2 separate regions of the Homo sapiens genome follow, and region 2 is reported to be linked to region 1. The links are microRNA targets in miRTarBase. Many come from high-throughput screens and were not tested one by one. Region 1 holds a microRNA gene; the other region holds the end of a gene's coding sequence.
What was found. Region 1 holds the annotated microRNA hsa-miR-30e-5p (UGUAAACAUCCUUGACUGGAAG, at 1,743-1,764, shown strand). A microRNA usually pairs through its seed, bases 2 to 8, with sites in the 3' UTR of a target mRNA and lowers its output. Matches are read on the target gene's strand: a 7mer-m8 pairs with bases 2 to 8, a 7mer-A1 pairs with bases 2 to 7 and ends in A, and an 8mer does both.

Region 2: the mRNA of FAM8A1 is a reported target of hsa-miR-30e-5p. Seed matches in the 3' UTR shown: 7mer-A1 at 3,588-3,594.

The regions. Positions count from the first base shown.
Region 1 is chr1:40,752,629-40,757,032 of GRCh38, forward strand. MIR30E (microRNA 30e) reads left to right here and starts at 1,727; the gene lies at 1,727-1,818. NFYC (nuclear transcription factor Y subunit gamma) reads left to right here. Exons shown (of 10, transcript NM_014223.5): 5 at 523-618.
Region 2 is chr6:17,607,946-17,612,349 of GRCh38, reverse strand. FAM8A1 (family with sequence similarity 8 member A1) reads right to left here. Exons shown (of 5, transcript NM_016255.3): 5 at 635-4,155. The coding sequence ends at 4,011. Among named protein-coding and RNA genes, the nearest start is that of FAM8A1, 9.8 kb to the right of the region's middle. RefSeq lists silencers at 166-366, 1,526-1,726.

The DNA of each region.
Region 1 (4,404 bases):
TAAGTATTGCAATTTAGAATTCCCAAATAAAAATCATAGCTTGTGAGAACTTAGTGTATATAGATCCAGTGACTTGAAAATGTTGCAAAAAGTTATTGAATTAGGATTTTACCTAATTCAATACTTGTGAACCAAAGGGAAAATATTATTTAGGGCCTTAAAAAGATTATAAACCTAACTTTGCTAACCCACAGAATGACCAGAAACCTGCTAATTGAGATTACTAGGTTTGTAATTTGAAAATCGCGGGGAGAGGATCAAGCAGGAGTAGCAGTGGTTGGAGGCTCAGATACCCCATTTTACAGTGTGAGTTACATGTATCTCTTTCTTTTTTGTTGATGGTTGCCCACCAGGTCTGATCATTTAAAGTATATGAGTTTGGCTGTGCTTATTTCAGCTGTAGACTTGCCCGTAGGTGTTTAGTTTGGCTTAAAAGTCGTCTTACCTTACTTGGAGGGTATAAAGCCAAGTGAACTAGTTTCTCCCCAGGCTAATTTTTCACACCGCTCTTCTTTGTTACAGAGAAATGATATCGCCATGGCAATTACAAAATTTGATCAGTTTGATTTTCTCATCGATATTGTTCCAAGAGATGAACTGAAACCTCCAAAGCGTCAGGTGAGCTGTGAAGGGATTGCAGTTGCTGCTGACTGAAGAGCGCTTTGTATACTGGTGTCAGATACGCTCCTTCTCTCTCAGCACAAGTCATTTGCTATTCCTTTTGCTTCTCGTTTCTAGACCAGATTCATTCTTAACATCTCCTTCTGTTACTCATTTCTGGATACTTTTAACTCAGTGCCTCCGAAGTGGTATTTCAGTGAAAATAGACAAAATGAAAATGAAAGACTTTAGTTACAAATGGTAAAGTTAAGCTCATTTCAAGTTATCTTAGGAAGTCTATCAGAGCTCTTCATCTGGGATAGGAGAATATTCCCAGAAAGTTATAGATTTTAGATTTTTAAGAAACAGCTTCTCTATGTGCACAGTGGCATTTGGAGTGAATGGACTATGTTTTCTCTTCCTCTATATTGTGGTTCATTATATCTTTATATAGTACCCTGACTGCACACTAGAATCACCTGTTGGGGTTTTAAAAATATCAGCGCCCAGGCTCTAACCCACATCAGCTGAATCAGAATCTCATGATGGAGCCCAGGCATCAGTACCTTTTAAAACTCCCTGGATGCTTTTAATGTGCAGTCAGATTTGAGAACCACCACTTGAGCTGTTTTGCAAGCAATCACAAGAAAGAATATGAACGTCTGCCTTCCCGTCTCTTCTGCCTGCCCCTCTCCAAAGGTCACACTAGTTGTTTTTTCAGCACCTTGGGTGCATATAGCTCTTAATTGTGATTGTAATAGACCTCTGTCCTTTAGAGCTCATTGTTTTAAGCATGCAGATTGCATGATTCACTAGGTGCCACTTGGGAAATTGTGGCAGAATCTCACAGGAGCAAAGCTGTGCCTTGTTCTGCTTGCTTTGTTATATAAAACTTTATTTTTAATGAATTATTTCATAGTATATTATCCTTAGAAGCAGTCATTCAGTGACAGCCATTCTCCCCATCCCAGCCTGTATTAATAACCAGTCAGAGAAAGTCTAGGAGAAGTGGGCATCCTAATGAACATTTGTAATTCTGACCCTGCATGAGGGCCTTTGGATTAGCAAGCCCTCTGTCACCTCCTTACTAGAGTAGGGTGTGCCTCACTGCGTCTCCGTTCTTTCTGGGCAGTCTTTGCTACTGTAAACATCCTTGACTGGAAGCTGTAAGGTGTTCAGAGGAGCTTTCAGTCGGATGTTTACAGCGGCAGGCTGCCACGGTCGTCCCCAGCTACGCACCGGCTTTGAAACATTGCAGGTTTGTGCCCACAGGCTCAATTCCTCCTCTTGGGGGTCCTTCCCTCCTCTCTCAGAAGTCACAACAAGAACTCAGGCCATTTATCTTCCTTCAGAACAAAGAGTATCATACACCTGCTTTCCTTGTTGAAATTGTTTTCTCCTTTTGTCTATCAGAAGCCCCCTTTAAAACAAGATTGTGAGCTCTGTGATGAAATCAGGCCTTGCTCACTCTCATTGTGCTAACTCCTTGTTTTCTGTGGGCTGCCTGCTGAATACACTGGCTGGAGAGAAGGGTCACATCCTGTCAGTTCCTCCAAATTCCTCAGTGCTTCTGGGTCTCTCGGGGTGTCATACAGCTCCTTATTCCATCTTAGCCAGACTCAAAATGCTATGATCCATCTGATTTTAAAGTGTGTCTAGCTGAAACAGCTTCTTGTTGCTTGGATTTAGTTCTTTGTAGGTGTTCGAGGCATTGATTGGCATCGTATTCGGGACAGCTGCTGCCTGGCCTTTGAAAGGTTGAGATTGCTGAAAGCTGGCCTGAAATTCTAAGATAGCATTTTTAATCCTCTGTAGACATGAAGTTTTCCCAGGCTTCAAATTGGCTGGCACCTCCTAAAGTCCTTTAAAACGCCTACTCTCCAAAACCCACCCTTTCTGAAGGAGGCAGCAGTTCACTCTTGCTACTAAAGCGAATGTACTTTTTTCCAGTCAGGGCTGGTTGCACAACACTGTAGAGATGGCCCTAGGATGTGATGCTGCTCTTCTCTGGCACTGTTCGTCAGTCTCAGCTTCTGGAAAGATTCCAAGAGCAAGCCCTGTAGTTGGGGAGGCCACTGCTAAAGTTGAGCAAGTGCCCCATTCTGGATTGATCCAGTCATTAAAGCATTGTTCTGCCACTTGGGGCAACCTCCCACTGCTGGGAAAAGGAACTAGTCAGAAATACTGAATTGTGAGTCCAAGGCCCTGACTTCTCAAAGATACTTGAGAGTTTCGCTTGTTCTTCAGAGAAGCAAGTAAAGATTATTTGAAGGTAGGAGGTAGTTGAGGCCTGACTTCTGCCCCACTAAAGCTATTGAGTTGAAAGTTCCTGCCCATTGAAATGTCATTATCTTTTCACCCATTTCTTTAAACCAAGCATAATCATTTCCTTGCTGGCTTGACCTCCATTGGCAGAATGAGTCTTCATAATGCAGAAGAGCCTTAGATATGCCTTCTTCCATTCCAGTGATTTGAGAACAGTTGTGCCTTGTCCTAACAACACAAACCTAGGTGCCTCCACTTGATTCTCAGTGTCCTAGATACTGTCTAGTTCATAAACAGTTTAAGAGGATGTAGTAAGCAGCATAGGAGGAGCTCTTGTCCTGCTCTCACAGCTTTTGGCAAGAGATATTTTGGGTTCTGGAAGGGGTTTTTAAAGGGTTTGCTTTTTGTCTGACAAAAAGATCATATTCAATACTAGATCAGCTGTAGTTGGGGATAACTGGAGACTAAACAATCACAGGTCACGGCTAGAAAATGCAGGTGTCTCCCTGCTGCCTAGCTTCCTACACAGCTGGTTCTGAGGCTCTCATTCCTGTATACCCTCTCATTACCCAAGAGCTTTTCCAAGTTAGGTCTGGATTTCAGTGATTTGTGCTTTTTGTAAAATAATAAGGGAGATCTCAGTGGAACACAAGTACCTTGAACCTACTTCAATAGCTTTGCAAAGAGCAGTTGGCTTCTGTTTCTTGGCTGCAAAAGGTATCAGTATTTTAGCTTTGCCACAGCCAATACCTAGTTTCCAGGCTGACATTTATTTATAATGATGATAAGTTGGGGTTGAAATTGTTGTGGAAATTGAGACCTAGATGAAAATAAAAGGGAATCTCCTTTTCCTTCTGCCTTAGCATAATCATATTGAGGGTTAAAACTATTTGTGTCTGAAGCACAGACTATATCAACCTAAAAAGTCAGTTCATATATTAACTTAGAAACCCAGAATGTTACAGGTATCTCCCTAAGCTGGGTAGATGGCTGTCAAGTAACCATGTCATGCAGAGACCCATGTTTCTCAGGGGTAGATACTGGCAGTCCTAGTTTTAGTATCCTAGCCCCCAGACATCAGGCAAACAAAGGATACTCAGCTCTGTTCCACAGGGGACACTAGCTGCTTCCTCACACTGTGGCCACAGAGTCTTAGAGGTACCAAAAGAGAGTTTAGAGACTACTTTTTTCTATTGGTAACAGCTGTTGGGTTTAAGAGAATTTGTCATATCAGCAAGTTGGATTCAGAGAACTACTTTCCTGCCTCTAACTGTCTGCCTGTCTAAATCCATTCATCATTCATCACGCACTTACTGAGTGCCTACCTGGGAACGCGGGGGATAGCAGAGAGCAAGAGAGAGCTAGGCTTTGCCCTCATGGTGCTTAACATTTTAGTAGAACAGACAGTTAATTTGACATGCAAGTGCAAAAATGTATACTGTGAGGACAGTACTTTGGAAGCACAGTTGAGGGCACCTAACATAGTGTGGGGATGGGGTCAATACCAGCTTTGTAAATGTTACTTTGGGGAGTTGGAGG
Region 2 (4,404 bases), not on the chromosome of region 1:
CTGACAAAAATTTGGTCTAGTAAAATTGAGAAAATGGAGGTAGTAGGTCTAGCTACACGCATCAGCTGTATGACCATGTCGGTCAGAGACTTCCTTTTGTAATATAGGGCACCTTTGTAAACTTGTCTCAAAAATCTACTGTAGTTCTAAAACAAGTTTGTGGCTAGGCTCATAACAGCAGCACATTGTCTACAGGACTTGGACCATCTTTTAGCTACAGTCTAGTTTATCCTTTATTATCTTTGCCCCTGTTGAGTGAGGAACCCGTTGTTTTGCTTCCTGCCTTCTCTCTGGACCTGTTCATAAAAGTTGTTAGAATGGGAAAGGCTTTTAAGGTCAGAACTGGGTTTAAATTGCCCAGATGAGACTTGTGTGGTGGTTGTGATGGTTAACAACTCTTGAAGGACTGGATTAGTTTAATAGTAAGCTTAATTCATGTACAGGTAACTTCTGAGTGTGCCTGCTAAAAGAATATATCCTTAAAGATGGGCGATTCTTTTTTCATAGATCTCTATTTCTGAAAGCATTCTAGTTTACTGCTAAACCCACTGGAAAACCTGTATTTGGAGGCAAGGTCTCCCTAAGCAGATTCTAGAGCAAACTGTCTCAAAGAAATAGACAAAATACAGATGCATTGATGACTAAGTATTTATTGAGACAAATAATACAAATTGGTGGCATACAAATTATTAAAAATAGAATGCTGAATTTTATTTATAGGTGGGCCATCAGATACTGTTTACAGGTTAAGCCTTACTATAATGAACTGCAAAGAAGTATGTATACTGTTTGAAATGAGGAACTTTATCCAGGCAAACATGGGATGTCAAGAGTGGCCTGTGGTACTGGAGACAAGGAATATCAAGTAATTGACATGTTACTTGTCTGTCAGATTTTAAGAATACTGTTATTTAGGCATATTCAAAGAAACAACTGCCTGTTTTAATAGGGATAAGTATATAACGAAAACATTTAATATCCATACCCCCCTCAAAAAGCCCTTTATTCCCAAGTAGCAACTAGTGTAAATTAATTTTCAATTCCTTTCTACCCTTCCTTTGCTAGAAATACTTATGCATAACTAAAACACTCAAGTCACTGAAGGGAACAAATCCTTTTACTGTCACTTGAATCTAAAAACACTCATTTTGTAATTTGGGCGAAGTAGCTCTCAAATATAATGCATTTTTTTCTATCCTATATATATACTTGGGTAAAATCGGAAGGTGAGTGCTTAGGCAGAAATAAGTAACTATTAAACCAGTGGGAGCAAAGTTCAGTTGGGCAATACTCTTTATGATACTGACAAGTGAAGGCTTATTAGTTCCAAAAGTGCTGGCTTTATTTCTGTAGTCACAGAGTAGTCTAAAGGTAAGGCTTACCCAGCTCTTGGCTCCCAAGTTAATGTTATTTATTCAGTATGCCAGATTTTTCTCAAGGTGCATTAGCTACTCAGGATAATTTTACTGGTGGGAACTGAGATTTTCTAGACGCCTAAATTAACTGCCAATTCTGGTTTATCTTAGGGACATGCTCATTGAAACAGTATTCTCACTCAGCTTGAATACTAAATTTTGTTCCCTTATTGTTAAAGTGATGAATATGTTTGTACAATGAAGACAACTTTCTTTTGGCTTTTTAGGCTACAGCTTCAGCATGAGAATTATACTTTGACACAGAAAATCAGGTCTATAAGTGAAATATAATAAAGTGTTCTGGAAAGCAGGAGACTACCTTACAACCCCAAGAGAAAAATATGTGGCACTAAGGTCTGGTTCCTTCTTCCCTCGTTGTTTTGTCATTTTTTTCCAAACTTTGGGAATCAAAATCTCGGTGCAAATACTGAATTCATAAATTGAAACAGACTCTTGGGTTCTATTATGAAGGCAAATAATACTTCTATGTATTTTGTAGGGTTATACAGTATAATACCTCGAATCCATGGTTGGATCTGACTGAACCTACATAGATACTAATCTGAATAACTCATATATAGAAAATGTGCAATATTCTAAGTACAAAAAATTAAACTGGACTAGTTTGCTTTTGTTTTATAGTATAAATGAAAATAATCTCGATGGCAAACTATTCAATTATCTGAGCAGAAATTATGAATGAAAGATGTATTCCAGACCTATATGATTGAGGGACATTTCAACTTGAATTCCCCAGCGGCAAAAGTGGTGTATAAACTAATGCTAGTGTATACACTACTAAAGTGCCAAGTTACGTAACATCTCCTAATTTTAAAAATGAAAGATTTTTCTTTTTTTCACTGTGAAGGGCAGTAACACAATCTTCCCCATGGGTGCAACTGAATGATTTATTTAGTACATTGATGTACTTAATTATTAGTGTTTCTGGGAAGCTGGATTTGACATAAACTTATTTTGAAAAACACGGTTTATGAAATTTTGTACTAAAATTATTAATAGACATTAAGTTTCTATAATCAAATGTGAATATCTGTTGTCACAGTTTTAAACGTCAAAGAAAAACCTTTGAAAATTAATATAGTGATAATAGATATGTGCTGTGTTTGCTGTTAAATTTAAGACCAAGAACACCACCTAGATTGATCCCTTAAGTAATCAAATTTTGAACTGTGCAATGCAGTTTAGTGTGTCTTTGGAAAACAATGTCAGAGCTGGAGAAAATACCTAAGAATCAAAACTTAAACCATAAATAGTACAGGTATATCTCAGCACAGCTAACTGGGACATCTAGGAAAAGCACACACACATAATAAAACCCCACAATTTTGCTTCAACAGAAGAATAAAGCAAAATGGCAACATACACAGTATCACTTTGCGTAACATTTCCCCCCAAACTTTAGCAGACCCAAAATGAGCTTAAAGACCCTAGAATGATGTCTGGGAATGCTAGTCTCTCTTGCTTTAGAGAGAATAGTCCATAATGGGAAAATTGCTAATATTTCGCAAGCTATTAATTAATAGTACTTAGAGTTAATCATGAAATATTAAGATTTTTTTAACTCCTTGATGTTTCAACAGTCATAGAACTATATAAAATATAAGGAAAGTAGTATGTGAATATGCTGTATATAAATAGAATTTACACTGAGAACACTGAGAAGCACTAATACTTTCTTCATGCTGCACACATACTGGGAATACTTTTACAGTAAATATGCAACTGTTTGATGGAGGTGATTTCTCCCCACATTTATAGTTTGATTCAGGGCACTGAAAACACTTGCACATAAATTATAAGTTCAATTTACAGTGAAAACTTACTCCCCCACCATTAACAGTAATCACTAACTTACCTTTTAAAAAAAAAAACCAATTAACATAGCAATATGACTTGATACTTTTTCATCATCATGAGAAACTTGCCCCTAAATACATGTTCAAGCATTAAGAATAGTTGTAAAGTTACATCATTACGAGAGGGAACTGCAGTATGGATTTGAAAACTTCAGGTAAGGGAACTGCTAGGCCTGCCTCACTTGTCCCTTTCTCTTGTAGCCAACTCACCACCTCCTGGGATGGGAGACAGTGGATTATCCAATTTGTGTTCTCATTCCCTCCTCTAAACACCAAAGACAATTTCCCCAGGAAGTGTAAACTAAAAGATGAGTTACATAGGTGTTTACAAAACACAACTGGACATTTTCCATTATTTTGGGATAAACCAAAATAAATTTTAAAGTTTCATTTGGAGATTTCAAAGCTGAAAATGCTTTCAGCAAATTCTTAGATCTTAAGAAAGTACCTTAGATCTTAAGAAAGTATATATTGTCCATTGTTTATAAAATCATTTGCCTTTTTGATCTAAAAATTTTAATACTTGAATTTAACAGGTTTTTCTTCTGGACAAGTTCTTTGGCATTCAAGTATAATCAATACTTTCAGAGTAGTCACCTGCATCACACTGGAGTGACTGCTTTAATTTCTAAATCATCAATTAGTGTAACCCAGGGATACTGATGGCCTTGATACATAATTTAGTCTTAGTGTGTGGAAATCAGGGTTTTGGGGGGCATCATCTGACCCCATTTCTTTTTACCACAATGGTTCCTGCTACAATGTCATAAGCTGTTCGATTATGCTGAAAAAACAGCAGTGTGATGAAAGCAGGGAAAAAAGAAGCAATTGAAAAATTCTTGATCAAAGCTCGGATAGTGGACCTAAAAAGTTAAAACAAAAATATCAGGTAAGTTACACATCAAACCACATATAGATTAATGGTATCCCATCAAGTTCAAAATAGACATTTAAAACACAATTGTACTTCTCTACAGAAGTCTACAGGGAAAAAGACATTCAAGGTATAGTTGAGAGAATTTTTACCTTTGATATATTTTCAAGTAGCACTGTATCATGATCAAACCACCTGGGCTATTTCTAATAAGACTTCAACAACATAAAAAGCAGTA